Linked DNA regions of Homo sapiens: regions 2, 3 and 4 are each linked to region 1. Evidence: fine-mapped expression QTL. A gene starts in region 1. Each other region holds a variant in brackets. All regions are shown on one strand. Distances are between the middles of the regions.

Evidence for each region. PIP is the estimated chance that this variant, and not a neighbour inherited with it, causes the effect.
Region 2: its variant is fine-mapped to the expression of PDHX in nasal epithelium (TOPMed, PIP above 0.99).
Region 3: its variant is fine-mapped to the expression of PDHX in whole blood (TOPMed, PIP above 0.99). The same link has a PIP of 0.9 or more in fibroblasts.
Region 4: its variant is fine-mapped to the expression of PDHX in iPS cells (PhLiPS, PIP 0.95).

What each region holds. Positions count from the first base shown.
Region 1 is chr11:34,912,907-34,921,016 of GRCh38, reverse strand. It overlaps PDHX (pyruvate dehydrogenase complex component X), which reads right to left and starts at 4,399. Exons shown (of 11, transcript NM_003477.3): 1 at 4,202-4,399. The coding sequence starts at 4,361. APIP (APAF1 interacting protein) reads left to right here and starts at 4,638. Exons shown (of 7, transcript NM_015957.4): 1 at 4,638-4,789. The coding sequence starts at 4,733. RefSeq lists an enhancer at 4,098-4,397 and silencers at 4,568-4,617, 4,638-4,977.
Region 2 is chr11:34,859,828-34,867,937 of GRCh38, reverse strand. The region is part of intron 6 of LOC102723568 (a long non-coding RNA gene); the gene reads right to left. The region is part of intron 1 of LOC105376624 (a long non-coding RNA gene); the gene reads left to right. Among named protein-coding and RNA genes, the nearest start is that of APIP, 52 kb to the left of the region's middle. The variant G/T (reference allele first, on the strand shown) is at 3,975.
Region 3 is chr11:34,990,512-34,998,621 of GRCh38, reverse strand. PDHX (pyruvate dehydrogenase complex component X) reads right to left here. Exons shown (of 11, transcript NM_003477.3): 10 at 6,243-6,307; 11 at 2,494-3,708. The coding sequence ends at 3,450. Among named protein-coding and RNA genes, the nearest start is that of MIR1343, 53 kb to the right of the region's middle. The variant T/C (reference allele first, on the strand shown) is at 3,336.
Region 4 is chr11:34,878,173-34,886,282 of GRCh38, reverse strand. It overlaps APIP (APAF1 interacting protein), which reads left to right. Exons shown (of 7, transcript NM_015957.4): 6 at 2,779-2,946; 7 at 3,467-3,988. The coding sequence ends at 3,566. Among named protein-coding and RNA genes, the nearest start is that of APIP, 34 kb to the left of the region's middle. The variant TG/G (reference allele first, on the strand shown) is at 4,894.

The sequences.
Region 1 (8,110 bases):
AAATACCATACCATTAACTCTATCAAAGAAGTTCCCTCTCTCCTGGTTATAGCACTGCTGTCAAAAACTCAGATGCCTACAAAAAACAGGCAGGTGAGAGAAGAGGACTAGCATCTTCAGGTTTTTTCTTTAGATTCTGACATCCTTTATTTTCATATTAAATGGATAAGCATTTTCCTCCTTTACACATATACACAATATCTGCTTTCTCCCATTTTTCTTGGTCTTTTGTCTTCTGCCTTCCGTAGAGATAAGAGTACAAGAAAAAAAAATGACAACTAGAGGTGATGCAAATACCAAGGGACATTCAGCCTTGCTAAGATGTAATACAGAGTAGGCGGCATAGTGACAAAGTAGGAAGCAATTTCCTACCTAAAAAGAACAATCATTACTCAGTGTTAGATAATTGTCACCACATAGGATTTAACTATCAATTTTAAAGAGAGAACAAAAATCTAGATTTCTCTGTAAAGTCTCCTGATTTTAAAATTTTGCCATAAGTTTTTCTGCTAAAACAATGTGGGTCAGTTCCCTGGCTGCCAACTTGGAATCCTACTGTAGGCTCTAGTGTTCTTTTATAACTTCCTAGATTACTAGCTTCCTTAGATATGTTTATTGAACATCTATAATATGTATTGCCTATAATTATATACTAGGCAAATCGCCACCAAGATTGAACCTCAGTTACTTTTCTATTCACAGGTTATTTTAAATTCAACATGTTATTCTTCAGAGACAACTTAAAACCAATACTATTAATTAACATCTTACCAATTATATTCCAAATCATGCTACCTACTCTGAAAGGACCACAATTTAAACTCTCTGAAGTTAACTGTCTAGAGTAGGTTGAAAAACTGTTTACAGATGCTGTGTCAATTATATAATGATCACTCTGGTCTCTGGGTCTTTGTTTCTGCTGTTCCTTCAGCCTGTAAGGGCTGTCACCTCTTCCTCTAAGAAGCTGCCTTATATATTATTTCCTGATCATTTCAAACTTACCCCCTCTGAGCTTACTGTATACACTATTGAAATCATACCTTTATTGTTTATGTCCCCAAAGAGACTACAAATACCTTAAGGATCAGCCCTATATAGAATTTTGGATTGCATGTCCAGGAGCTAAGTATGATTAAATGTGCCATGTGGCAAATACTGAGAATCTGTTTGATTCAGCTGGCCACTACTTCCCAAGCAGGGTACCATGTGCCTGGCACCTAATAGATGCTAATTTCTTCACTCATTCTTCAATAATGTAAGTGGTAAAAAAGATAGTCTCTGCATTCTCAATAAATCTGTTGAGAGAATGATACAAATTAAAGATTTGTTAAACAAATTAATATATGTATATAAATATATACATGCACTTCAGTTCATCAACACAGTTACATGTCTTTAGGAGACTCAATTTCTCTAAGCCTTGGTGTTTTTGTCCAACTAAATGCAGATGATGCCAACTTTACTAGGTTATGTGAGAAGTGAATGAGAAATTCTAGAAAGTGCTAAGAAAATGGCATATGTCATAGCTCATAAAAATGCTGCCAGCACCTCTTAAGGAAATTAAAACTCCAAAGGTAGTTCCGACTGACAAATTTTTAAAGATATTTGTGTGAAAGACGAAACAGTTCAATAAATGTACTTAATTTATATAGTTTACAGTAATCCAAATAGTTGTTTAGTTTTATAAAACTACAGTTTCTACCAAGCTCAGAGAAAAAACACCACCGTAAATTCACAGTTTGTAAAACAAATAGTTCAAGGATTGCCACGTGTTTTCGGCATGGCAAAACAAAAATCTGTATGTAGGTGAAAGTCAGAAGCGGATATATTTTGGCTCGGTATTAGGAAAAAAGTCCAACACTTCCAAATACTTAGTATTTCCAAATACTTTCCACAGCTTCACATGCAGAATGCCATGCCTCAAAAGGTTCACGTCCTAATACCCAGAACCTATGAATATGCTGTTACATGGCAAGAGGGAATTAAGGTTAAAGATGGAATTAAGGTTTCTACTCAACCTTGAGATGGGGAAAATATTCAGGATCATCCAGATGAGCCCAATGTAATCACAAGGGTCCTTGTAAGTGGCAGAAGGCAGAGGGGAGTATTAAGAGTGACGTAATGTGATAAAGACTGAACCAGCCATTGCTGACTTTGAAGCCCATGAGTCAAAGAATCTTAGAAACCTCTAGAATCTGGAAAACTTAAGGGAATGGGGTCTCGAGCCTCCAGAAAAGAATGCAGCTCCTACCAATAGCTTGATTTTAGCCTAGTTAGATCCATTTTGGACTTCGGACCTCTAGAACTATGAGATGTGAATTTGTGTTGTTTTAAGCCACTAATTTCTGGTAATTTGTTGCAGCAGCACTAGAAAACTAATTTGGCTTTCCTTGAGATGCCATGCCTTCTTCCTGACAGATGGTATTCAAACTGGGGTAGACAAGTTGTTCATGGTATATGTCTAGGGGATAGGGAATAGGTAAAAAAGCATCATGAGGATGCAGATAAGGATTGCTTGCCTAACTGAGTTTCTAAAGGCATTAAACTGGGCCTATGTATACTTTTTTTTTTTTTTCTCCTGAGACAGGGTCTCACTCTGTCACCCAGGCTAAAGTGCAGCGGCAGGATCATAGCTCAATGAAACGTCTAACTCCTGGGTTCAACGGATCCTCCTGCCTCAGCCCCTGGAGTAGCTGGGATGCCAGCACGCCTGGCTTTTTTTCTTTCTTTTTTTTTTTTTAAGTAGAGACGGGGGTCTCACTTTGTTGCCCGGGCTGGTCTCCAACTCCTGGGCTCTAGCAATCTTCCAGCTTCGCCTCCCAAAGTGCTGGGATTACAGGCGTGAGCCACTACGTGCACATTTTTGTGTGTGACCATTTATGGTACTTCCTCTGTACAGAGAGTCTGTAACATTTTCAAAGATTCTCAAAAGGATCTGCTTGATAAACAAGATTAAGAGCACTCTTCCTAGATTATATCCAATACTAAACTTTTAATATTCCATGATTTTCTAAGGCAGTGAGTCTCAAAGCTCATTCCATTAAATGTCAAAATAAAACATCAAAACTCATCCAACATTTGTAAAATGCAGATTCCTGAGCCCCACACCAGACCAGACCGAATCTCTAGGAGCTGGAAAAAAGTTTAATTTCAACAAACTTGGAGGAGGGAAGAGAAGGAATTCTGCACACACTGTTAAAGCACCTCTGCTCCAAGGAATATGTTATGAAACATTACACCAAAAATGAAATAAATTGTTCCCATTAAGGAACCTTTAGGAACCCCAATACACTCATCTTACCATATGACTTTGTGTGATTTTTTTTTTCTGAGCCTAAGGTAGCTCAGAATATGAAGGCAACGTCTACTAGACCTATTTAAATTAAAATTCATTCTGTAGAGTGCCAGGAACGATGATTGGCAGGTAATACGTCACACTAAAAAACGTCAGTCCTATTCTCCATCCCCGCCTCCCTCCAACCTTCTCCCAAAATAAGGAAAAATAATACCCGGCCTGCCATTTTGCATACTGTTAAATACTGCAAGAATTGTGTTAACTGCATCAATATCATTACTAAACAACAATTTTCTATAATAAATTTTTGGTATGATTTATCTCCTAAATGTTTGCTCTTTCAAGCGAATATTTGCTTGAAACATTCTCCTGGACCTTTGTCTATCGTGATGCCGTAGGAATTTACAAATTTAAGTCTTCCACGAGTCATGGCGTGGGGTAAAACTCGACTGGCCTCAATGAAAACACCTCCTAACAGAGAGAGGCCTAGAGAATAAGTAAGAACTCCCAACAGTGGCTTTTCAATCTCGGCAACCTTGGGCAGCTTTTTCTCGTCCGAGACGTTTGACAACCCTAAAGAAACCTGAGCCTTGATTGGAAAGGGGGCTGAGGGAGGAGAGTTTGGGAACCCTCTCTGCGCCTCACAAATAACCCAAATTCCAAGGCAAGGTCACAAAGCCATACAAACCAGGGGGCCTAGGGCAGAGTCGAGTTCTCTCAGCTGCCAAGAAAGCCCTTCACAGCATGCATTAGGCCAAGTCGGCGGACCCCAACCGGAGAAAGAGGAAAGGGAATAAGGAGCCCGCGCACCTTCACACCCAAAAGCAGGCCCTCAATCATAACTGCCCCTGTCCCAGGCCCATCACTCAGCTACACAGAGAAGCTGAGCGAGCCCCGGCCACTCACCCCGAAGCCACTGCGTGCTGTGAAACCATCTCCAATTAGCTCCGCGGCTTACAGACCACCCAAGAGCCCCCTTCACCAGCCCTACGCTTCGGCGGCCGGGGAAGCCCACAAGATAACGCAGCAGCCGCGGATCACAGCCCAGCCTCCAGGAGGCCGCCATCTTGACGGCCTTCTCACTGGCTGCCCGCAGCACAGCCTGATGTCCAGCATCAAGGCCCCGCCTCCCGCATGGTTGGCCACGCCCCCAGACGCTAGCGGTGCCTTTAGGTCTCTCAGACTTGAACCCCCGCCCCCCAACCCAGCCCCGCCTCCAACCACGTTGGCCTTGCCTCCCGGGAAGTCAGGTGCGCCGCTGGATATCTCAGCCGGCGGGGCCTTACCAGACCCCGGCCCCCGCCCCGTTCGCCCCGCCCCCGGGCTGCCCTCAGCGCCGCCTGATTGCATTTGCGGCCTCGCTGCCGTATCCCAGGCTAAGCGCCGCGCGCAAAGCCGTGCGGAGATTGGAGGCCGCGCGGGTCCCTGGTCTGGGCCATGTCTGGCTGTGATGCTCGGGAGGGAGACTGTTGTTCCCGGAGATGCGGCGCGCAGGTAGGGGCGGGGCCACCGGTGCCCGGTATTCCCAGGAGGAGAGGCCCAGGCGGGACCCGGCGGCTGGAGCTGGGCGCAGGGTAGCGGGCCGGGCGTTTAGCTGCGGGGCGGGGTTTCGGGCCTGGCCGTTCGCTACCCCGGCGCACCGCGACCTTGGCGTTCGGAAGCAAGGCTGCGAGGCCCCAGGAGATCAGTGGTCTCGGGCGGGGCGCTCCGATGGCGGGAGCTGGGCGCCAAACGTTGGAAAGAAGCAAATAACTGAGAGAGGAGAGCGTTTAGGTGACCTCACCGGGTATTTATCAGGAAGGCAGGCCAGAGAAGGAATCGTGAAGCACCGAAGTGGAGCTGGGGCGAAGACCGCGCCCCCCAAGCTTCTTTTCTGCGCCCTGACGACCAGTTAGGCGTTTGGGGGGACGTTTGGCACTCGGGAGACGTTTGCCGAACCGGAGCTGTGCCTCAGCTGCCAGCGCTTTGCCTTTGAGCAGTTGCTCCTTGCCTATCTCCGTTTAGATGAATTGTGGGATGATCATGGGAACGATTCTTCCTTAAGCCGAAGTCAAAGGGAAATCCACCCTCACGCTGCATGTAGTTTTCGGTCATTTACACAAACCAACAGTTTTATGGAGCGCCTTCTACACGCTCAGAGATAGGGATACGTAAGATAAATGGCCCAGGGTCTGGAGAACTAGACGAATAAGCAGTTTCAGCACAATATGATAAACCCCACCTAAGAGGCAGGGAAACCCCTCAAAATTAGTTTCCTTATTCCCCCTATCTTATTCCTCCTATCTATATCTTTCTTAGGGTTGAAAATCCTAATTAAAAAGTAGTAACTCGCGGGAGATTTCATTGCTAAACATTTGTCAACCACTTTCTTGTTTGAATAAGTGACTTCCCCAAATTAGCAAAGACGACTCTGAAAATAGAATGCTGCATAGGCAAGATTGGATGAGAGAGAGAAGATCTTGGAGACAGGACAGGTAACTGGAGATCGTTCCTGGGCAAGTGTGTATGGAGAAGTGTCCGTACCCTCAATCAGTAAATCTTAGTGTAATGTCATCAGAATGAGCATCAAAGAGAGCCTTAAGGGACCCGAGAATAAACTAGGATTCTCAAACCAAACATGGCCCACAGACAGCTTGGTGGACAGGCATGTTTTTTTTTTGCTGCACTCAATGTTCATGAAAAATTTGAGCCAACCTTTTTTTTTTTTTTTTTTTTTTTTTGACACGTTTTGCTCTTGTTGCCCAGGCTGGAGTGCAGTGGCGTGATCTCAGCTCACTGCAACTTCTGCCTCCTTGGTTCAAGCGATTTTCCTGCCTCAGCCTCCCAAGTAGCTGGGATTACAGGCGCATGTCACCACACCCAGTTAATTTTTGTATTTTTAGTAGAGACTGGGTTTCACCATGTTGGCCAGGCTGGTCTCGAACTCGTTATCTCAGGTGATCCACCCCCCTAAGCTGCCCAAAGTGCTGGGATTACAGGTGTAAGCCACCACGCCCTGCCAAGCCAACATTTCAAAATCCAGAATCATTTCAGCTTCTTTTAAAACCTCAGAACACATGGTGACATTGGGCCCTTATTTTTTCATGGGATCTGGATTGCGGTTACTAGTGAACACCACCTTTACAGAGGGTGCTGGCCAGGTTACCACAGCTTCCACTACTCACACTGGATTTGCATATCTAGTTAAATACATGAGCCCCTCTAGATATTTGTATTTGTCTGGTTTTGTACAAATACATAAAAACAGCAATAAGAAAAGTTTTAAGAAGTCATAAAATTTCATTGTAGTTTTAGGGGGTCATGGGCAATGGAAAGAGACAGTCTCTTTGGCCTTAAGGAAGGGGAATGTTCAACTGTAAGTGATTAATTCAACGAATATTTAGTGAGCGCCTACTATGTGCCAGGCATTGTGGATTTATAAGTGCAAGCTGCATCTGGTTCCTTCTCCCCTAGAACATGCTGTACAGTGGAAGAGACAAATTAGCAAAGAGACAAAGATGGTATGACAACATGACATAGTTTGACATATGACGATATGACTTAGATGGGAAAGTTCAAGGTAGTTTAGGAGTATACACTTGAATGGGTTAGAGAATACCTCAGGAAACAGTGAAAGTATCTACTGAGGCCTAAAGGATCAGGAAGACATAACCACATGCAATGAAAGTAAGGATATTCCAAGTAGGGGAAGTAGCATGTACACAATCTCAGGGTTGTCCTTGATTACAGACATGGTGTGTTCCCATATTAAGTTTGGTGTTCTGGAACATAAAGTAGGGGCCAGAGACTTGAGATGAAGCTAAAGAGAAAAGCTAGTGAGAGGTAAAGCCGCTGGGCTTCTGGGTCGGATGGGGACTTGGAGAACTTTTCTGTCTAGCTAAAGGATTGTAAATGCACCAATCGGCGCTCTGTGTCTAGCTAAAGGTTTGTAAACCCACCAATCAGCTCTTTGTAAAATGGACCAATCAGCAGGATGTGGGTGGGGCCAAATAAGGGAATAAAAGCTGGCCACCAGAGCCAGCAGCGGCAACCCCCCTCGGTCACCTTCCAGGCTGTGGAAGCTTTGTTTTTTCGCTCTTCACAATAAATCTTGCTGCTGCTCACTCTATGGGTCCGCACTACCTTTATGAGCTGTAACACTCCCTGCGAAGGTCTGCGGCTTCATTCCTGAAGTCAGCGAGACCATGAACCCACCGGGAGGAACGAACAACCTGCGTGCCACCTTTAAGAGCTGTAACACTCACTGTGAAAGTCTGCAGCTTCACTCCTGAAGTCAGCAAGACCACGAACCCACCAGAAGGAAGAAACTCTGAACATCTGAACGAACAAACTCCGTACACACCATCTTTAAGAACTGTAACACTCACCGCAAGGGTCCGCGGCTTCATTCTTGAAGTCAGTGAGACCAAGAACCCACGGGAAGGAACCAATTCTGGACAAACTAGGACCAGACCTAAAGGGCCTGTTAAGCAAATCTTAGATTTTTAAACTAAGGGCAATGAGATAATCAGCAGGATGACTGAAGAAGGCCTGGGGATTGCTGGCTAGAGTTAAAAAGACCAGAGGCATGGAGACAGACTAGGAAGCCGTGGCAGGCATCCAAGCAAGAGATGCTGTAGGTCTGAGTGAGGGAGTAAAATCAGGAGGTCTTGGTTATTGATTAGATGTGTGTAGTGAGAAAAGAAGTCAAGAATGACTTTTAGGCTTCTGATCTAGTGATTGGGGCCTGGTGGTCCACCAGAAAGAGAATACAGGAGGAAGAAACAGTTTATGATGGGTGTGTTGTGGACATGTTGAGTTTGAGGTACAGCCTCA
Region 2 (8,110 bases), 53 kb after region 1:
GCATCTAAAGGAGGCCAGAGTAGAGATCCTCATTTTATCTCCACTTAATTCACCAGTCTGGACCCCTCCAGAAATTAGATGGATCTCCTGGAGCATGAGAGTAGACTACACAAACACAGCTGTAGCTGCTGTGCCAGATGTGGCACCTGTGCTAGAGCAGGTGAACATGGCTTTGGGTACACAGCATGGAGCCAGCCATTTCTATCAGAAAAAAAGATCAGAAGCCAGGTGTAGTGGCTCACACTTACAGTCCCCACTGCTCAGGAGGCTGAGGCAGGAGTATCACGTGAGCCCAGGAGTTAGAAGCCACAGTGAGCTATGATTGTACCACTGAACTCCAGCCTGGGCTATAGAGCTAGATCCTGTCTCTTAAAAAAGAAAAGACCAGAAACAGTTTAGTTTCATGTGAAATAGGCAACAGAGCTATAGTTTTCTCCAGGGCTGTGTTAGTTCTCACTCTTGTAATATAGTCTGAGGAAATTTGGGCTTTCTGAGTATCTCGCTGGACCTCATATTGATCCACTACATTGATGACATGGCGCTAAATGGCTGAATGATCAAGAACCAGCTAGCATCTGCTCCAGAGGTGGGAGGTAAGCCCTAGGAAGATTCAGAAGCTCAACATCAGCGAAAATTTTAAAGATCCAATGATGATGGGCATGCTAGCATATCCCACCCAAAGTGAAAGACAGATATTACATCTTGCGCTCCCCATTAGGAAAAAGGAAGCACAATTCCTTGTAGACCTCTTTAGGTTCTGAAGTCAGCACATTTCACACTTGGGAATGCGGCTCCGGTCCATGTGCTGGGTGTCTTGAAAATTACCATCATTGAGGGAACCCAGAGCAGAAAAGGGTTCTACAGTAACTCCTGAACATTTGAGCCAGTGACCCAGAAGACCGTATGATGTTTGAGTACCGGTGGTGGGAAAATATGTCATGTTAGTTTATGGTGAGTCCCAGTGGGACAATCGTTATGCAGATCCCAGATTTCTGGAACAAAGCCATGCCATCTGCAAGGAAGAATTATTTGCCTTTTGAAAAACTCTAGTGTGCTACTGGGCCGTAATAAATATGGAACTTGCCTCTGAGATACCAAGGGTGATGGTTAATTTTATATGCCAACTTGGCCCGGCGACAATGTCCAGATATTTGGGCAAACATCAGTCTAGATGTTGCTTTGAAGCTATTTTTTAGATATGATGGACACTTAAATCAGTAGACTTTGAGTAAAGCAGATTACCCCCATAATATGGGTGGGCCTCATCCAATCAGTTGAAGACCTTAAGGGAAAAGTTGGAGGTCCCCTGAGGAGGAAGAAATTCTGCATTCACACTGTCTTTGGATTTAAGATTGCACAAGATTGCAACATCAGCTTTTCCGTGTGTTTCTGAGAGCCTGCCGGCCTGCTCTGTAAATTCTGGTGGTGCCTGCTCACACAGTCACATGAGCCAATTCCTTACAATAAATCTCTCTATTTCCCCACTCTGTCTGTGTGTGTGTGTGTGTCCATCTATGGGTCTGTTTCTCTGGAGAACCCTAACTAATGCACCAAGTGACCCTGCATCCAGAACACGCATCATCATGAACTGGGTTTTGTCAAACCCAGTGGTCCCCAATCTTTTTGGCACCATGGGCCAGTTTCATGGAAGCCAATTTTCCCACAGATGGGGTGAGGGGGATGGTTTCAGGATGATGCAAGTGTATTACATTTATTGTGCACTTTATTTCCATTATTATTCCATTGCAATATATAATAAAATAATGGTACGACTCACCATAATGTAGAATTGGCAGGAGCCCTGAGCTACTAGATGCAACTAGATGGTCCCATCTGGGGGTGATGGGAGACAGTGACACATCATCAGGCATTAGATTCTCATAAGGAACATGCAACCTAGATCCCTTGCATGCACAGTTCACAATAGGGTTCACACTCCTATGAGAACCTAATGCCGCTGCTGATCTGACAGGAGGTGGAGCTCAGGAGGTAATGCAAGCAGTATGTAGTGCAAGCCAAAAATGGTCAGCAGCTGCTCTACACATCCCCTCAGGGGTGGCCTTGAAAGATAGTGGTCAGGGAAAAATTCTTCCAATGGAAAGAGTTCAAGAGATGAATCTGGTCACCCACTTTGTATGGACGAAAGAAATGGCCCAAAGTTATAGATTCATTGGCAGTGGCAAATGGCCTGGCTGGCTGATCAGGGGCCTAGAAGAAGAAAGATTGGGAAATTGGAATCAAATTGTCTTAGGGTAGAAAGTGTGAGAATAGATATTATAGCAAGCGTGAAGTACGAAGATCTTTGATCACATGTTAATGCCCACCAGGAAGCACATAGTACAGAAATAGTATGAAGCAATTAGGTGGGCAGGGTGACTCAGCAGGTAGAGGTCATCCAGCCTCTAAGGCTCTCTCTGTTCATTCTTCCCACAAGAAGTCATTTGATTATTTCAGACTAAGCAAATGCTCAGTGAACCACACCCCTGGTAATTACGGACAACCACCAACTTTGGCATTTACAGCCAAGTTTCATGGAAATATCTGAGCACTCAAAGCAGGAGGAGGCAGCCAGGAGACAGATCTGGAGGCCCTGCTAGGATTGTGACTCTTCACAACTATGTGCTCATTCTTCTTCCATGCCTACACTTCACCTGGAATTAACTCTTCCCTGGGCAGCTAACACTAGCATGCATTGACCCAAATGAATGTGGTGGTATTGTCACCCCCAGATGAGCTACTAGTTGCTTCAGATCCAACCATCTTTTATCCATGTCTACTTAGCAAGGACTCCAACCAGAGGCTGCACTGGGACCCTCTCAAAGAAGCTCAAACCCATATCATTGGAAGGAGTCAGGCTGCCATTTTCCTCTGTAGAAGGTCTATATCCCAGCTTGGTAATAAAGCCACCTCCATTGGGGAAACATGAGAGAGTCCAGCTGGTGTGGTAGCCCCAGTAAATTGCTGAAACCCTCAATGGCTTCACCAAATTTTTACTACCATTTCACAGCAATAGCAAGATACTAAGGAGGAAAGATCTAGTAGTTACCTAGGAATATGTATCTGGACTTCAGGAGAGTATCTGAGAATTATCAGCAGATCTGTAGTTCATGCATCCATTCATTTGACCATCTATTAAACATCTACTATGTATCAGGCACTCTGCAAGATGCTAAGAATTTGCCAGTGAATAAGATAGATCGGGTCTCCATTGTCCTGAAATTCAGAGTCTGGTGGGATGTGGAAGTGTAAATTGAAGCCCTGGGTACAGGTCATCTTTCCAAAGGTGTGAAGAAACACTAAGCTTTAGGGCACATTCTGGAATGCAAGAGAGAGAAGAGGAACTAACAAAGGAAATGGAGAAAGAGGAAGTATGTGGAAAACTGGAGGAGCATAACATTTAGTTTAACTTGTGAGAGTTTCAAAAAGAAGAGAGAATGTAAAATATCATCTGCTGCTAAAAAGCAAGAATAAGACTGACGGGAAAAAGTGCAGTATAGTAGTGTTAAGTACATGGACTCTAGTTTCAGAAAAGCCTAACTTTGAGTCCTACCTCCACCATTTATTGGTAATGTGACCTTGGTCAAATCTCCTTTAGTGGGGACAAAAATGCCTCCTTTAAGGGTTGTTTAAATAAAATAATATATGCAAAGTGTCAAGTATACTGCCTAATAAACAGTAGTTTGTTTTTTAAATTTTGTTTTCTGTTTCACTCTTGAATTTGGCAAAAAGGAGAATTGGTGTACTCTAAGAAATTTGCCTAAAGTTCTTTAACTTTAAAATCCAACACGCGCTTTCTCATATAACCTTCCAGTGTTTGTTAATCTCAGACTAACAGTCTTCCACTCTGTGTCCCTCTGATAAGATGTAGAAAGGGCACAATCAAAGGGGACTTTAGTTATAACAAATTAGGGCTACAATTTGGTGTTCAGATGCCTCTACCTATTAATTTAGAGAATGCGGTCCGTCACACAGTT[G/T]GAAATTTAAACGAAGTATATATCTTGGTTCTCACAATTCAGAATGTGGGGCTGAGCTGGACTCTGTCTGTCCCACAGTGTAGCAGTCAGATAAATCAAGCATCAGATTCAACCCAACTCAGAAGTCTTAAGTTGGAATCTGTTTCTCCCACAGTCAGTGTAACATTCAAATAAATCAAGCATCAGATTCAACCCAACTCAGAAGTCTAATTTGGAATCTGTCTCTCCCATAATCAGTGTAACATTCAAATAAATCAAGCATCAGATTCAACCCAACTCAGAAGTCTGCAAAATATTTCCTCTTGCCTTTAATTGGACTTTCAAGACAAGGACAGTAGCAATCTTAGAAAGTTCCAACCAACCTAGATCCAACAGCATAGATTGCCCGGCCTGGGGAAGACAACTGAAAAATGAAAGCCAGATGTTAGGGGGTTAAGGAGAAGACCTTGAGGAGCCACATAGACTACTCCTTGAAGAAGTTTGGAAATGAAAAGACAGACACGGGAAATTCTGTCTACGCCACTATCAATTTCAACTGAAGCCTAGATCAATTATTTCAAGTAAGTCCTGTTTGATGAGCTGGTTTCTCAAGCAAGCATTCTGTCTCAGCTGTACCCCAAGGCCTGGCTTTCTCATGTTCCATAAGCAGAGAGGATCATAAATCCTGCTGAGATGTCAGTAGGGAAGACTCCGCTTTCTAGCATGCCCAGCCTGCAGATAATGATCTTGACTAGAAAAGTGTAAGGTGGTTAAGAGCAGTTAAGGCACCAGGTCACACTGTACTTATTCTGGGAAAAGATCACTCTCTCTGTGCCTGGGCATAGGCAAACCAAGAAATCACTGGAAGTCTCATTCTCTCCAAGAACATCAGGTATGATATCAGGCCCCACTCTGGAATGCAGGTAGGGCAGCATCTAGGTTAGTCTGTGTGGATTTGGCCTTCCTAGATCACTGACAGTTTATGGATTAGTCTTATGGTCAGGTAATTTTCTTCAAAAAGGGATCAGTCAGTGACAAGGGGCGAAGGCTCTGGTTTGGCTCAAAAATCTAAGGACCTCCCCACAGCCCAGATCTGTTATAGAGCACCTTCTATTACACCCCAGTTGTTTTTAACTCTGACCCAATATACACAAACTTCTCTGACCCTCATGAACTGGTGGAGACCAGACTTTCCATTTCTGCCCCTCTCACTTCCAACTCCTGCCTCTGTTTGCTGAAGTGGCTCTACCAGCTGATGTCCACGTAGCTGGACTTTCCTTTGGCCCATTGTGTGTTCATATGCACCAGCCAGGGGGGTTATGGGGACTTCCAGAATGCTCTTCCCAATAGTCGGAAAGCATGATGGCCAAGTGTTTATGAGGATATCTTGCTGATGGATTTTAAAGTCCCTGAAAGCTTAAGATCCAAATTCTAAGTTACCCTACATATTAGTCTCATTGACATACAAAGAAATTTCAAGGGGAGCCCTGCCTCCTGAGTTCATTGGCACCTGGTGTAGGTCACTGGCTGGCCTGTGACAGGTAAGCCTCTCCAAGTGACATGATTGGGTTTTCTCACAGATTTCCATTATTGGATTTAAATTTAAACAAAATATTCTGGGCCAGGCATGATGGTGTGTGTCTGTAGTCCTAGCTACTTTGAAGGCTAAGGCAGGAGGATCACTGGAACCCAGGAGTTCAAGGTCACAGTGAGCTATGATTGTACCATTGCACTCCAACTTGGGTGACAGAGCAAGACTCTGTCTATAAACAAACAAACAAATAAATAAATAAACAAAAATGTTCTGACATAAGGTTCACCAAGTGGGGTGGACAGAAATAAATCAGACCATTTGACTTTTGTTCATTCGTTCAGCACATACTTGCTGAGTATGCTGGACTCTGTGCTAAGTGCTCCAAGTGCAGCATAAGCAAACCAGTCAGGTTCCTGCCCTCATAGATCTGGAAGAAGTTAGTAAAATAACCTTAGAAGTAAGTGAAAAAGTAGAAGTGCTACAAGAGAGAACTATGAGGTGCTATGAGAATGTACTATCAAGAAGTTGGACCTGGTTTTGGTGGTATAAATAGTGGACTTAAGGAAGGGATATCTTAAAGTTTAATGGCCAAGAACACAGGAGACATTGGCAATACCTTATATTTGGCAGCCTTACAAAAGTCTTAGCTATGGTCAGCCTCCTCTATTCCTCTTACATTGCTTTATGTTTCCCTCTGGATAGAAAGGGAAAAGTAGAAAGTATCCATATAGGTTTAGGGGACAGGGTTTGGTTAATAAGTAATCCAATAAGAGAACATGATTTGCTAATTTACTAAATTCAAGGACAACTATGTTAACTGCCACTTCCTTTTATTTATTATCATTATTATTATTATTATTATTATTATTTTTATTTTTGAGATGGAGTCTCACTCTGTCGCCCAGGCTGTAGTGCAGTGGCGCCATCTCGGCTCACCGCAAGCTCCGCCTCCCGGGTTCACGCCATTCTCCTGCCTCAGCCTCCCGAGTAGCTGGGACTACAGGCGCCCGCCACCACGTGCCCGACTAATTTTTTGTATTTTTAGTAGAGACGGGATTTCACCGTGTTAGCCAGGATGGTCTTGATCTCCTGAGCTCGTGATCCACCCGCCTCAGCCTCCCAAAGTGCTGGGATTACGGGCGTGAACCACCGCGCCCGGCATTAACTGCCACTTTCTAAATGAAAAACTCTCAGGTAGAACTATCTGAAATTTACTATATTTAACTTTTTGCCTCATAAAAGCAGCAATTTCATCTGGTTCAGGCTAACCATATAGAGACTTCTGATAAAAAAAAAAAAAAAAAAAACCTTAAAGTGCTGATGCTGAAGAACAAGACTGACCTTAAACCATAGAACAAGGGACCATGCCAAAACAGGCTTTTTTTCCTTTATCTTTTTTTTTTCTTTAATACAGGGGTCAGTAAAACTCTGTGGAAACAAAAAGGTGTAGCAGAAAGACCACTAGATGGGTGTCAGGAAACTTTGACTCTAACCCCAGCAAGGCCACTCGCATTTTCTCTGTGATTTTGTGTAAGTTGCTTTCTGTCTCTGAGGCAATAGTTCCTCATCTGTGAAACTATAGGGCTTGACCTATGATATTTAAGGCTCCGTTCTTTCAAGACTCTTCTTGCTCCTTGCTACTGTAAGACAGTAAGACTTAGAGTAACACAGCTCTATAATCCCCAGCTTAGAATACAGCCATTTCTCATTTCCGATCCCTCGCCATATGGACAGGTGCAACCAAATGACAATACGGCCCTTATCTGCCTGTCAATCACATGTGCTAGTCTCCATGTGGACCAAGACAGAGATAGGATTCACCTTGTTGATCAGATGATTTGTGAGCTACTGCTTTATCCAGAGTATGTATTACATGTTGAAATTGTAAACATTCAGTAGGAAATCATTTTGAGGACATTACCCAAAGCATCAGAAGAAGAATTGATCTAACTACAGGCTAAAGCAAATCCAAATAATTACTACTCATTTTGGTTTTTGCCCTTCTTGAACATAGAGATGGTATTGCTCAGCACTTAGAAACTGAATCCAAACAGCTGGGGAGGGAATGCTTTCTGAAGTCCAGTTGGGCTGCCAGCACAGATCATCTCCATTCTGCTGACCAGCAGGACCACGTGCCAGCAGCCAAACCTTTAAGTCTCTCAGCATAAGAGCAAGTGGTAACGCCAGGGGTTTTAAGCCTGCAAAGAGTGATTACCTGAAAGTGAGGTCATGATTCAGGGGTTTGACTGCCAAACACTGCTGACAAAGACACACTCTTTTCCCTGACAGTACAGAATCATATTACTGCACACGCAAGTGTCTCACACCTGGGAAGGATGAAATTACACTGAGCTTAATCCTCCGAAACCAGCCCAACAAGAAGTCACTTAAACATTTAGGATAGGTGTTGTCTCCTGGCAAAGAAAATACTGCAAGGCAACCGGGCAGTTTTTACTAATGAGAAGGGCCTAGACTTGTCAGTTGAAATAATCTTTGACCCTTGATTCCCTTTATTAATTATTCCTTGAGAGGTCTAAACATAGTCTCTCTTAAGTGGGCACTCTGGTCTTTTGCATCCTTATTAACTGAGGAAATCAGCCCTTCAATGAGGTTACATAAGCAT
Region 3 (8,110 bases), 78 kb before region 1:
ATACACTATTTGCTGTACATAACTTACTGGAATCTTATTCGTTTTCATATTGGTGAACGTGAGCCATGGAGGACTAGTGTTTTGGATGGGAAATTCTATCACTGTTCCTGCATTATCTGACTGAATACATCTACCCCATATATTCATAAGACACCTCATAGCATGGTAACATGCCAACTTTTACCCATTTCCTCCTTCTTTAAAGACACTGACCTAGTGCAGATCCTAATCAACTTATACTTTCATTATGGCAAAATCTTCCAGTTCTTTTCTGATGACTGCTATCCTCTCCCTGTTTTGACCTACTGACTTGCACATTATGGCCAGACTGATAAAAGTAAATCTGCACTGTTACTTCCTTCTTCAAAAATCAGTAAAAGTTTCCCACTAATAGCATCCCATTTAAATTAATGGTTAATTCTTACCGGCCATACACTTGATTCTTTCACTTCTTCACTTCACCTGAGACAAAGTCCATCATAATGCAGTATGTGCGGGACACGTTTTCCTTGAAAACTAAGATTTAAGTGCCAATTTAACTTTTCTCCCACACTTTCACTACAATATATTAACTTACAGCACCACCTATCTTTCAATAAAAGCTTAACCAAGAACTAGATTTACATTTAGCATAATGCCCTTAGGCTGGCTGATACAATTTAGTGTAAAATTAAGTCCAAAGTGCAAAATATTTTTTAAAAATCTAAAAATAAAAGTTTCATTCGACATTATATAAAATACCCATTAAGAGTATATATAAAGTTCTCAGTAATGTTTAAAACCAAGGACTCTGGCCAGTCGTATACCAATGACTTAAATTTAGCACAAAATAGTGAATGTAACTAAAAATTGCAATCAGCGAGCAGAGCCAGTTTGACTTATAAATTCTAATATTCATTGATATTTTCACATCCAAGTGTTAACTGGAATGTGTGTTGCCTTTTCCTTAGAAGTACTCCCAATATTTTGGTCATTTTTTCTGTTCAAACAAGAAACAAAAATGAAGAGGCAGAAATTTTTTTTATATCCTCTCAGTGTGATACCTATCTATTTTAAATAAATTAGTAGTATAATGTGGAAGGGGCCTGGTAGTGTAGCACACAGTTCAAACCAAGTATACCATACTCCTTTCTCAGTGTTATTCTTTGATCTCAAACTACAACAAAATTCTTTTTAGAAATGAAAACTTCCTTAATCTAAACCACCTCATCAGTATAGAAATACCAGAGACAATATTTTTGGTCAGAATGAACAAGCATTTGTACCAGAAGCTGAGAAGTCAAACCATGAGAGGCAGGTGATTATATGAAAAGCCTGGTTGTGAGGTCCATGAATTAAAACATCTTAAATTTATACAGCGATTTCCCTTGTACAGTTCAACTCTCTAAGGCAGGCTGAGTAAATATTAATGCCCATTTCACCTATAGGGAAACAGATGCACTACTGCTTATGTACGTCAGTTCATGAAAAGCAGAACTCTGAGTCAGGCTTATTTATGGCTGCCTCATCATGTTCTGTTCCTCAGATATAAAAATTAAAATGAACAAACAAACAACAACCACAACAAAAACAACGGCCTAGCACAGTAGCTCATGCCTGTGTAATCCCAGCACTTTGCGAGGCCAAGGTGGGTCGACTACTTGAGCCCAGGAGTTTGGGACCAGCCTGAGCAACATGGCAAGACCCTGTCTCTAAAAAAAAAAAATAGAAAAATTAGCCAGGCATGATGGTGCATGCCTTTAGTCCTTAGCTACTCGGGAGGCTGAGGGAGGAGGATCACTTGAGCCTAGGAGGTCGAGGTTGCAGTGATCTGTGATCCCAGCACTGCACTACAGCCTGGGCCACAGAGCAAGACCCCATCTCAAGAAAAAGTAGTAATAATAATAATAATTTCGATTAAAACTGACCTTGGAAATAATGTAACATAAAAATTATTTTGAAAATAGCCTTTGGTTATAATTTTCAGTGTAACTGTTAATATGACAAAAGTTTTGAAGACTATTTTTTTTAAATGGCTTGTTAAACTGAGTTGGATAGTTGGATTAAGCATTTTCTTAACAATTAATACACCAGGGTGCTAATTATTTTAGAAGGCTCTTCTGTTAGGGTTTATAATTCATCATGTCATACCATACAACTTGTACTATATTAGCCTTTCTTCTATTGATTCATGTCAGCTGACACTAACATAAACCTTTTTGTGACAAGTTAATTAAATTACCATTCATTACCATCCAACTTAAATATAGTTATCTTGACAGTTATAGCAGAGCTGCCAAAAGAGAGAAACAAACTCTTCTAAACTTTATAATAATTAGTGAAAATTTCATATTAGTGAAATAAAAAGGATAGTTCTCATCTGTTTGGCTTCATAAGTCTTCTATTCTCTTTCCAAAGTTTTACATTTCCTATCAGTTACTTTCCTAATGTCATACTAATTTTAAATTCCGTCTTTTCTCCTGTAGAGCCCTTTTAAAGGTGTTCTAGAAAAACTACTAATCAACTTCAAGGTTTATTGAACTTTTGTGTTTTAACATTTAAAATACAATAGAAATGTTTATATTTTCTCACATTTTACTGCACAATACAAAACTGATTTAAATGCATTAAGAAACAACATTTTGTTTTTAAATAAACACTAACAAAATGTTTGGCAAGAGATAACACAATTTATTTAAATATATTCCGACTCAAGATGAAGGCAAGCGGTTTACCTAGAAAGGTTTACATATTTTAGCTATAGTTTTTCATTGAACCATTTTTTTGAAATGTCATTCTTTTCATTCATGCTTCTTTTATCCTCTTGCTTTAGAAGTTCACAGTGTTATATAAGTGAAAAACAAGACAGATAGAAACCACCCTAAACATATGGCTTTATGTACATAAAAAATTCAATAATGTTGCCATAACCCCTAATACAGTGTGATCCTTATTTATTTATTATCCAGAATAAACTTCTGTACCTATTAAATTCTTCAAGTATATCTAGAGCAGTGCTTGTAAAAGTGAGGTCCCACTGCTAAGTTAATGGCCATCTCTTTGAAGATCACTTCTACCTTCAACATAATTATGGTACAGTTCTAATAGTTTTTTTAATTTTACATGTATCATACATTCTCAAATATTCCAAAATGCTCAAATGAGCCAAACATATACTTTGATTTACATCTAGTTTAATATTCCCTTTATACAGCACCAGAGGTTAAAAATGGATCTGAGTAACCAAATATTCTCTTTCCTTTATTAGTTAGAGTTTATCATCATTTATTTCTATAACATTAAACCCAAATTGAAGATGAAGACACCCTGGGTCAAATGCTTTCACCTTAAATAAA[T/C]AAACATTTCATCCACTTCATACTTAAATACCAAGTTGTTTTCCTATAACATATGTTTCTTGGTAACAACTACTGAATCAACTAAGCTGAACACCAACTTCTTATCTTTGAGGACTAGGCAAGTCGGATAGGATTCTCTAGGTTTGCTTTAAAACTTTTAAGAAACCTGGTTGCCAGTTCGTCATCAACCACTCGACTGTCACTTGACATTGTGACTGTTATGAGCTGGCGCTGCTGCAGTTTGGCATTTCCCTCTTCATCCTCAGTGAGCTTCAGCACAGGTCGGAACCTCCCAACCGCCAAAATGCAGGCCTGAGGAGGGTTAATCACTGCAGTAAATTCGTCGATGCCAAACATCCCCAAGTTGGAAATACTAGGGGGAAAAGAAAAAGCTCTGAAGGAGGCATGTCCTTAATCAAAGTCCCCTTTCCGTGAAGCACATATTTTATATATTTTACTAGGCAGTGTAGTAAGGCAAGAAAAAAATATATGAGTAATGAAAAAAGGAAACATTTAGTATTTACAAATAAATTAATTGTGTACACAGGAAAAATGAGACTATAGATAACTAGTAAAATTAATAAGTAAATTTAGTTAAGTCATCAGATAAAAGGTCAATATAACAATCCATTTTATATCGAGTCATGTCCCACATAACGAAGGATCACATATACAACGGTGGTCTTATAAGATTATAATGGAGCTCAGGAATTTCTGCTGCCTAGTGGCATCATAGCTGTCATAACATCATATTGCAATTACTTTATTTTAAAAATAAATTTAGTGTAGCCTAAGTGTGCAGTGTTTATAAAGTCTACAGTAGTGTATAGTGATGTCCTAAGCATTCACTCATTCACTGATTCTTCCAGAGCAACTTCTAGTCTTGCAAGCTCCATTCACGGTAAGTGCCCTAAACAGGTGTACCATGTTTTACTTTTTACATTTTTACTGTACATTTTAAAAATGCTTAGATATGTTTAGATACCCAAATACTCATCATTGTGTCACAACTGCTTACGGTATTCAGTAGAGTAACATGCTGTATAGGTTTGCAGTCTAGGAGCAACTGGCTATATCATACAGCTAAGGTGTGTAGCAGCATGTACCATTTAGGTTTGTGTAAGTACACTCTATGATGTTTGCATGATTTGCGTAAGTACACTCTATGATGTTTGCATGATGAAACTGCCTAACAATGCATTTCTCATATCCCCATCATAAAGTGGCACATGACTCTACATACAAGTTGCTATAATTAGAAAATAAAAATTTAAAACAATACCATTTATAATAGTATCAAAAAACAAATACCAAAGAATAAATCTAATGAAACATATACAAGACCTCTACACAGAAAATTATAAAACATAACTGAAAGAAATCAAATAACTGAATACACAATGGTTTCTACCATATTCACAGGTTAGAATACTCAATACTGTAAGGATGTCAATTCTCAAATCATCAAAAGACTTAATGCAATCCCAATCAAGAAACCAGCAAGGGGTGTGTGTGTGAAAAATGGCAAATCAATTTTACAATTTATTTGGAAATACGAAAAGCCAGAAGACAATCTTGAGGGTGAACAAAATTGGAAGACTTCATTACCAGCTATCAAGAGTTATAGCTTGGTGGTAGTAAACAAAGGATAGACAAACAGGCCAGTGGAAAAAAAATAGCACAGAACTAGACCAACACATATATAATCACCTTTTCAATGCTATGAAAAAGGAGAAATCAATATTCAATACATGATGCTGTGTAAATTTAGTATCCATATGGGGAAAAAAGAGCACTTGAAACTTCACATTATATACAAAATCCAATTTCAGTTGAATTGTGATCTACATGTGAAAAGTAACGTAAATGCTTTTAGAAGATAACACAGAAGAGTAACTTCATGACTCTGAGATAGGCAAAAATTCCTAACAGAAAATGAACAGTACCAACTACAAAGAAAAATACTGATAAATAGGAATTCATTAAAACTCAGAACTTCCGTTCATTTAAAAAAATCACCGAGAGAGTCCCAAAGGCAAGTCACAGAGTGTGAAAGCTATTTGAAACAATATATATCCTATAAAGGTCTGTATATCCAGAAATAAGAACTATACATCATTTTTTTAAATGGACACCAGATTGCAGTGGGTACTTTATCTCATGAATTACCAGATACCCAAACGGCTGATGAGTGAAAAGTACTCAACATCACTAATTTGCATTTTCCTACAAAGAGTACCACTACACACCCCAAGAATTGTTAAAATTTAAAACCTAACATTATTAAATAGTGGCAAGAATGTGGAGCAATGGGAATTCTCAGGACCGTTGGTGGAGGTGTAAATTTGTATAACCATTTGGAAAATTGTTTGGTAGTAGCTGCTAAAGCTTCTAACTTAGGAATTCTACTTTTAGGTCTATACAACAAAAAATGTACATACATTCACTATAAGACACTAATAAGAATGTTCATAGCACCATAATTTGTAATAGCCCCGAACTGGAAGCAACGCAAATGCCCACCAACAGTAAAATGAATTCTGGTATATTTATACAATAGAATATTATATGCTGCAATAATAAATAAGTGGTTGTTTCACATAGCAATATAATATTACAGACATTAATATTGGGGGTGGGTCAGATACTAAAGAATACATAATATTTATCATTCCATGTTAGTCAATGTCCAACGAACGTTTAGTTCAACACTAATAGGTTCCTACTAGCTTTAATATGAAAGCCTGACTAGTCTGAAGAATTTTTTCAGATATTCTATTGTCTAAATAAAGTATTTTTAGCTTAAATTTTAAAAAATATTTCAGATAAATGAAAGGCTGACAGGGACTTTATAAGTCTTACATCTATCTGTTTGATGCTATGGATAATTAAGAGTTTAAATTTTACCTAAAAGATCCTCCTTGGTATTCTTCAGGCAACAATTTTCCATCTCTTGCTTTCTTTGATAGAGCCTGAGAAAAATACAAACAGAATAGGACAACCAACAAAATGTTATACAGTTGATCTTGTCACTTGAAATATTTGTACATCATATACTCTCATCTCTGATATGCCTTGATTTGATTTTGTTACCTATATAAAAATAATTTTCTCTAATTATAAGAACAAACAAGAGCACAGATAATTCAAGAAACTAAAGCTGTTAATCAAAACTCTAGAAAAATCACTTCCTTTAACAATTTTTCAAATGTGGGAATTACCCTGTGTACCATCAATTATTATGCAAAATGCTTTAGAGTTTCCTATATGCAAAATGAAATTTTCTATTTTGCCTATAAAACTTTATGGTAAGAAAAAAAATACAAGAATCCATTCTGGTCAATCTAGTGTTTTTTAGTTTTTTTTTTTTTTTTTTTTTTGAGAAGTCTCACTCTGTTGCCCTGGCTGGAGTGCAGTGGTGTGATTATGGCCTATTGCAACCTCCATCTCCCAGGTTCAAGCAATTCTCTTGCCTCAGCGTCCTGAGTAGCTGAGATTTCAGGCACCCACCGCCACGCCCAGCTAATTTTTTATATTTTTAGTAGAGATGGGGTTTCACCATGTTGGTCAGGCTGGTCTCCAACTCCTGAACTCAAGTGATCCACCCACCTCGGCCTCCCAAAGTGGTGGGATTACAGGTATGAGCCACCATGCCTGGCCAATCTGTGTGTTTTAAATAAATTATCCAATGGCAACCAAAGTAGTATACCCACAATCCCACAACCAACATTCCGTTTTTATCTTTCAGAGTTTGCTTCATCTTTATCCACAATCTCAACCCCACACAATGGTTATAAAAAATAAATTTTATATTTAATTGTTCAATATTATATGTATCTTCTGTGTTGTCAGCCTTCAGAAATGATTTTTTAATGTTTGTTCCTAAAGACTGCACCTGCCTAATTTACTTGGTTATTTCCCAGTGTTATAATTTGGTTCACGGTTTCTTCTGAATTATTTCAGGTAAATTTTCAGAAGTGGAATTATAGTGCCCTAGAGAATAGACTTCTTTTGGTTCTTGATCCTATAGCTAAATCATTTCCTGAATGAGCTAGTCCAATTTACACTGCCACAAGGAATATAAGGATGTACTTGATTCATATCACTCTTGACCACAGCGATTTCTAAAAATCTTACAGAAGACAAGACAGATGACATATTAGTTAAATTTTCCTCTCACTTGTACTTGGAATTAACCACATTTCTGTTAATTTTTATTTTTCAGTGCTTAAAAGCAAGGGAACAGAGGTTGAGTCATCATATATAAAAAATTAATAACGAATTAACTTAAGAGGAAGGGTACAGAAAAATGAGGTCACTGTCATTTGGGTAGATAAAATAAATGTGGAATTTACTTAATATTTTGTATTACATAGGCAACATAGGCACTATTACAATCACAGTTGATAACTAACTTTAATTCATAGATGATTTAATTTTTTAAAATTGAAAGTCTTTAAAAATATCAAAAATCTAAAAACACATTACTGTAACGTACTGCCAACAGAAACAATTACAGGTGTATGCTATTTGGATGTGGTTATTTATAAAACTATTTGGATTCAAGGTAAAAAATGAGATGAATTTTGACTTATACAGTTCTTGGAATAACGGGAGAGAGAATAATCTATAAAAGCATTTTTCCTCCCTTAAGCAATGTAATTGTTCACATGATTTGAAAAGACACATATATGAACTTTAAAAGGCATTTTTTAAAGGCAGATGATCTCAACATATCCTGATGAACTACCACACAATTACCACAAATGAAAAAA
Region 4 (8,110 bases), 35 kb after region 1:
ATTAGCCTAGGAGTACACAGGGTCAGGGTCATCAATATCACTGCCTTCCACCTCCACACCTTGTCTCAGTGGAAGGTCTTCAGGGGCAAGTAACATGCATGGAGCTGTCATCTCCTGTGATAACTAACAGTGCCTTCTTCCGGAATACCTCCTGAAGGACCTGCCCGAGGCTGCTTTACAGTTAACTTTTTAAAAACCATATAAGTAGAAGGAGTACACCCTAAAATAGTGTTTTAAAATTATAGAGTAATAAATACATAAACTACTAACATAGTCATTATCATCACGTATTACATACTGTAATAATTGTATGTGCTGTACTTTTATACAGCTAGCAGCACAGTAGGTTTGTTTACACCAGCATCACCACAGACATTTGCATAATATGTTGTGCTGTGACCCTATGACAGCTATGCGGTCATTAGGCGATAGGAGTTGTTGAGAGCCAAAAAGGCCAAAGGGATCGTGATCAACTCAGCATTCCACTGGAGGCTATATGATCAAACAGCAAACTGTTTATCATGAATGCAGGATGTGAGCAAACTCACACTGCGCCTGCCACCAAAAGGTTTGCTGAGGGACATCACTCCCTGGCACCGGGCTCCTTGAAGTTATCCATTGAGAAATCTAGAGCCTATTGTTCAAAGGATGCAGTCTTGCAAGCCTGCTGTGAACCAAAGTGGCCGACTGACAATTGCCCGACAATTGCCCCCCATTTCTCGTTATCTCTTTTACCAATAAATACGGAGGGCTGTGTACAGCTCGGGGCCCTTGTCCACTAGAGGCAAGGTGCCCCCGACCTCTTCTTCCAAACGTACTCTCTTGTTTTTATCTTTTATTCCCACGTTCGCCCCCTTTGTTCAGTCCACCAGGTCTGTGCAGGTATAATGGAGTTTTTCAGCTCCATTATAATCTTATAGGACCACCATCATATCTGTGGTCTGACATTGATGTATATGTATATACCTATATATGTGTATATATATACCTTTATATGTATAGTTATATGTATATATATACACCTATATATGTATAGTTATATATACATGTATAACTATACATATATAATATACATATATAGTTATATAGGTATATATATACATATATAGTTATACATGTATACCTATACATATATAGGTATACATTATATAGGTATATATAATATATATAATATACATGTATACTATGTATACATATATTATAGTTGTATAATGTATACATATACATAACTTTATATTATAATTGTACTCCCTTTCAGAAGCAATGTCTCTATGGTACAGTGAAAACAATACTCTTTGAGGGTCAAAGGGCTATCCTGGCTCTCTTTCTCATTTAACTTGTCTGGATCAGTGTCATGTTTGTAAAGTGGGAGGACTGGCTTGAATTCGCTTTCAGTTCTTACTTTGCTGTGAAATTATTTTGCTCCTGAAAATATTTCTGACTATTGAGTGCATGCTAGAGAAAAATATGTTTATGGTTCTCTCGGCCAATATTAGGAAAGATTTGAGACTAGCAATTCATTCCTTCAATATTTAAGGATACTTTTTTCTTTTTTTTTTGAGACTAAGTCTGGCTCTGTCGCCAAGGCTAGAGTGTAGTGTCTCGATCTTGTCTTATGCAACCTCCGCCTCCCAGGCTCAAGCCATTCTCTCACCTCAGTCTTCCGAGTAGGTGGGACTACAGGCATGCACCACCATACCTGGCTGATTTTTGTATTTTTTGTACAGATGGGGTTTCACCATGTTGGCCAGGCTGGTTTTAAATTCATGAGCTCAAACAGTCCATCTGCCTTGGCTTCCCAAAGTGCTGGGATTATAGCTATGAGCCAATGCACCTAGCCATAGTTAAGGATAGTCTATAATTACCTCTGTTTTACTTAAGTGAAGTGATGGGCAACTCTATACTCTTAATGATAATGGTTGGCCAAGTTATCAGTCACATGATGACTACTTAGTCTGTGCTTGCCCTACAGTAGCAATTGCAGAATACTTTAGCTAGAACTTTTTTTTTTAAGTTTTTAGCACTATAGAAGTAGTGAAAAAGCAGATGTTACATTAACAAAACAAGAGAAATTCATGTAAAAAGGAAAGCTTATCTGAGTTTTTGCAAGAATAGACTTAATTTTGCCAGTGACAATTATGTGTTTAAATATTACATTCTGATTTCATCACATGTATTTCCTGAGAGGACAGTGGAAGTAAAAGAAGTTCTAATGCTACAGATTTGAGAATGTTCTGAAAGCGTCGTACCTTTAAGAGTTATCTCCAGAACATTCTTGCTGTCCTAGTGCCACAAACCATGCTTGTGTTTTTTGATTTGCCTATCTCAGATACTTTGGGATTCTGCAGAAATGAAATACAGTGATTTTGTATTAATTGGGAAATTCTTAATATATAATTCAATTTTTAATCTTTTCTATGCTTCTGATTCTGAAATATATCATTTGCCATCTCCTTGTATAAATATTATGATTGTCCCTGCTTCAAGGAAACATTTATATGATCTTGATGATTTCTTTGTTAGGTTTTGGTATATTTTACAAATTTCCACCACTTAGGCTTAGGATTAGACCAAGCCTGCCACATTCCCAAGGTACCTTTTGATAGAGATGTTTATACAAGGTACACAGAATAACACGCAACATCCTGTTCATAATTTGGAGTGGCTTTTCAGACACAAACAGCATGTCTAACTGGTTACTTGAAAAAATTACATGTTGTATACATATCAATGCTTGATTTGTTTTAATGGAAAAAAATGGCTTGTTTTGTCTTACAGATATGATGATATGTTAGTGGTACCCATTATTGAGAATACACCTGAGGAGAAAGACCTCAAAGATAGAATGGCTCATGCAATGAATGAATACCCAGACTCCTGTGCAGTACTGGTCAGACGTCATGGAGTATATGTGTGGGGGGAAACATGGGAGAAGGCCAAAACCATGTGAGTGTAAATCAGAGAACATGGGGAACAAGTTACCACCCGCTAAATGTGAAGGAAAACAAAGTATGTCAGTTGGTTTAAATTTAAATTGTTTATCATTATTTGTAGATACTTTATTTTTATTATGTATCCATTCATGAAGAAGTATTGATTGGATGAGCTGTTGTTTGGCAAGGCTCTAGGAATGTTGATAGAGGAAGAAGACACAGATCCCAAGTTACAAAAGTTCTATTTCAGAAAGTGACATCTAGTTTAAAAAAAATGTAAATTTATGTAGGCAGTATATTTTAAACTCTCTTTTATTTCCTGAGAGGTATGTAATATTGTTGCATGACTTAATATGATTCCTTTCTGTGTTTTAAAAATGTTGAGGGAAAAATAGAATTTTGGCCTAGAATTGAGAGAAAATACATACTAGGAACAAAGCAGAGTTAACTGCAAGAGAGGAGAAATGTGATTCTTTAGGATTGGAGAACTCTGTTTCGATAAACACTGGTTCTTTTTGCTTTTTCTTTTACAGGTGTGAGTGTTATGACTATTTATTTGATATTGCCGTATCAATGAAGAAAGTAGGACTTGATCCTTCACAGCTCCCAGTTGGAGAAAATGGAATTGTCTAAGCCAAAAGAAAGTCTAATTATATACAGAGATAAAGCTAAACGTAATTATTATTTAAATGAAAGCTATTTTTTTAAATGAATTGAAATTTTTCATGATGCTACTAATTTGCCACTAAATACTGCAAATGGTCACCCTGAATCTCTTCTGACATTGGATGTTATTTGCTTATATTCTTATAATTTTAAATGAGGGCACAGTGAAATGAAAATTTTATACTCTATGTTTCTGTTTATTTTTAAATCCTTAACAGCAAAATATTTGCCTTTAATTTCTTTTTTATATATACTCTCAGAGAATTCCTCTTAATTTTTAAAGATGCTGGTGATAATAAAATTCATTAGAAAATTTCCTCATTGTGGAATGAGCATTCTCTTGTTTTAATGTTGGTGTCAGAAAATAAATATGAAACATTAAGTCCAAATTTATCCCTCAATGTTAATGTCAAAATAATTTTATAGATTTCCCCTATTAGCTTTAGTGTTTCCCTGTGGTCTACAACAGGACACTCATTTTATATTGGGATCAGTTGTGAAATTCAGGTCAGGTGGTATCAACTCAAATTCCCTTAACCAAACAAATCTTGATCAAACCGATGATGTAATCAGAAAGTCCTTTCTTTAAAATTGTTTTAAATTTTAGGTTTGGGGGCCCACATGAAGGTTTGTTACATAGACAAACACATGTCACAGGGGTTTGTTGTACATATTATTACATCACCCGGGTATTAAGTTCAGTATCCAATAGTTATCTTTTATGCTCTTCTTCCTCCTCCCACCCTCCGCCATCAAGTAGACCCCAGTGTCTGTTGTTTCCTTCTTTGTAGTCATAAGTTATTGCCATTTAGCTCCCACTTAGAAGTGAGAACATGCAGTATTTGGTTTTCTGTTACTGTGTTAGTTTGCTAAGAATAATAGCCTCCAGCTCCATCCATGTTCCCGCAAAAGACATAATCTTGTTCTTTTCTATGGCTGCATAATATTCCATGGTGTATATGTACCATATTTTCCTTATCCATTCTGTCACTGATGGGCATTTAGGTTGATTCCGTGTCTTTACTCTTGTGAATAGTGCTGCAGTGAACATTTGTGTGCATGTGTCGTTATGGTAGAATGCTTTATATTCCTTCAGGTATATACCCAGTAATAATAGGATTGCTGGGTCAAATGGTTGTTCTGCTTTTAGCTCTTTGAGGAATTGCCATACTGCTTTCCACAATGTTTGAACTAATTTGCACTCCTACCAACACTATGTAAGGGTTCCCTTTTCCCTGCAACCTTGCCTGTATCTGGGTTTGTTTGTTTTTTCTTTTTTTTTTTTTTTTTTTTT[TG/G]TGACAGTCTTGCTCTGTCACCCAGGCTGGAGTGCAGTAGCACCATCTTGGCTTACTGCAACCTCCATCTCCTGGGTTCAAGCGATTCTCCTGCCTCAGCCTCCCAAGTAGCTGGGATCACAGGCATGCTACCACCCCCGGCTAATTTTTGTATTTTAGTAGAGACAGGGTTTCGCCATGTTGGCCAGACTGGTCTCAAACTCCTGGCCTCAAATGATCCGCCCACCTCGGCCTCCCAAAGTGCTGTGATTACAGGCATGAGCCACTGCCCCCAGCCTGTTTTCTGGATTCTTGGCGGAGGTTCTTCCACTGGGGAAAAATAGTTTTAGCCACCTCTGGTTAATTTCATTTTCCTCATTTTAAAATGCAGCTAATGAATAAGATAAAGTATGTGGAGGAACAAACCACAATGCTTAATCCAGTGTAGATGTTCAATAAATATTAGTGTTTTTTAAAATCCCTTTTAATCCTCATAATAGTCTTTTGAGATAGATATTGTACCTATTTTCTTAGATGAGAAAATTGAGGCTCAGATAGGAATAATAAATATGTAGAATTTAAATAAGAGAAAACAGGTAAACTTCTTAACACAGTACCTGTCATATACTATGTATGCACTCAAAATATAAACTTCCTTTCCTAAAAACCCCTCACCTAGCTATCTTCAAAGTAATTGTCATGCAGGTAAACCATTTAAACTATACAGCAGCAGCAGCACATCTCCAGTTGTATATTTCTTTCCTGGGAGTGCAGAAAAGATTGCAAAACCTGCTTTAGAGGTAGGGGAACAGCTGGTGGAAGGCTGTATCCCCTAGTTAATATCCTTTTTTTTTAAGAATATGATCCCTCCTGTGTGACTGCTAGGAGCCAAGGTCCAAAGATGAATACAAATCCAGGCTGGGAGCTAATCCTCAGTGCCTGCCACATAGGTGTTCAGTGAATGAGGGAGGGGGAAGCAGGCATTCTTCTTCACATGCCCTTGTGATTGTTGTTCTCTCAGTTATTCCAGCTTCTTTAAATAAGAGGAAAATTTGGTTATGAATGCAGGATTAAACTGCTAAGAGATCTAGATCAAACACATTTTTTATTTCATTAAGTGCAGGACATGCCATTCACTCTCAGATTGAATAAGGGACTATCATTTGTTTCTCAAATGATTCTAGAGGCTTTTGGTCCCACCCAACTTTCTTGTGAGAGATACTTCAAAATAACATAGTTCCCTAGAGAATGTCCCAAAATCCGAAAGGTAAAGTCATAATCTTAAGGAGTGTTTCATTTTATATCTCAATTTGTTCAAATACCTCCCTTTTGAGAAAATTTTGCCATGTCTCATCAGCAGTTCTAGTCAAGATGGTCAGATGTGGAACTAATAATGTTGACATCACTATTCAAGAGGCAATTTGAATTCTCCCACCAAGTTTCTTTAAAGCAGGACTACAAGGCCCAGCACAGTGGCTCACGCCTGTAATCCCAGCACTTTGGGAGGCTGAAGTAGGCGGATCACCTGAGGTCAGGAGTTTCGAGATCAGCCTGGCCAACATGGTGAAACCCCATCTCTACTAAAAATATTTTAAAAATTAGCCAGGCATGGTGGCAGGCACCTGTAGTCCCCTCTACTTCGGAGGCTGAGGCACAAGAATCACTTGAACCAGGGAGGTGGAGAGTGCAGTGAGCTGAGATCGCACCACTGCACTCCAGCTTGGGTGACAGAGCAAGACTCTATCTCAAAAAACAAAACAAAACAAAACAGATTTTGGTTTCCATTTCACTGATCTGTAATTTATAAGCACTGAATCACCAAGTTTTGGATAATAATCACTGAAATGGGTATTCTTTTGTGGTCTTAAGTTATAAACACAAATATGCTCTTAAAGTATATTTGGCTTCTGATATGAGTATTAGGGACTTAGGGTTCTAACAAATTTTAATATGTTCTACTATTTTATTCATACTTTTAGTAAGTACCTTTTACTTTTCCTACTTCATTATTGCAATAAGGACCACATCTTTGGAGATGAAACCAGGAAAATTTATATATATATATACAGTAGAGCTTTGAAAGTTAAGTAAAAATTTCCAGTAGTCAAAATTATCATAAAAAATCCTTTAAAATAACCCATCAAATATAGTGCTGTATATGTGATTTGTGAACTTAAGATTATTTCATTTATTCAGTAGTGTTTATCCACGTCCTCAAATAATCATGTTTTGTTTCTTTTGAGGATGTTGATCAAGTCATCACCAGCCTTTTATCTTGAACAATGTGTTTTAAATCATCTGCAAATTTTTCCATTGGTTTCACAATTGTTCATTGTCAGTTTCAGGTTTAATTGCATCTATTGCTTTTAATACAAGCAAAGGAAAAGTACTATTTTCCTGGTATACAATCCCTTTAGGTTAACTTTAAAATAACTCAATACATTGTGATTGGAACCCACTAGACAGTTAGGATCTGTTCTCTTTACTCATGCATGGTTAAACTTTTCTGTTAATAAACATGTCTTTCCCATGCTCTAAACATAAAAGTGTTATATGTGTATAATCTTATGCTCATTTAGGCTTGCATTGTTTGATAAAAACTGGGTGAAAAGCAAAATACCCTAGACACCACCCCCACCAAAAAAAACTACATTAGTGTAAGGAGTAAACTTATGAAACAGTAAGTTGTGCTGTGTTGGTGTCAAATGCTCCTAGTCAAAGCCTTGATGACCATCTGTAAGCTTATCTGTTTGATATAAATGATCTAAAGGACACCCAAAGAAGGTTCCAACAGGCAAGAGAATGGAGTAGGCATCCTCAGGGTGCTGAATATTTCTGCCCATGGCTGGGTAGGAAATCTTTATCCCTCAAGGGATATTACTGTAAACCTTCGTTAGCAAGTAAATATCAATAAATGTTGAATGAATGACTCTTGGTTCTCCAGCAATATTAAATGGGATTGAGGAGTAAAAAGAAGTGTCTATGTAACCTCCTCCAAATTCCATTGTAAGAGAATTGAGCCTAAGAAGAATGAATGCCATGTTAACTTTTATGTTATGGGGCATAATTGGTTATTGTTGTTAATGGAGTAGGACTGAGAAAGTCTTAAATTCCTGTTTGGGACAGAATAGAAGGGGTGGTTAATAATGGATGGGGTGGTTAATAAATAAATCAGTAATGTATTACATCTTAAAGGAAGGAATTGGGAAGAGTAGGATTATAAAATCTTGTTGAGCT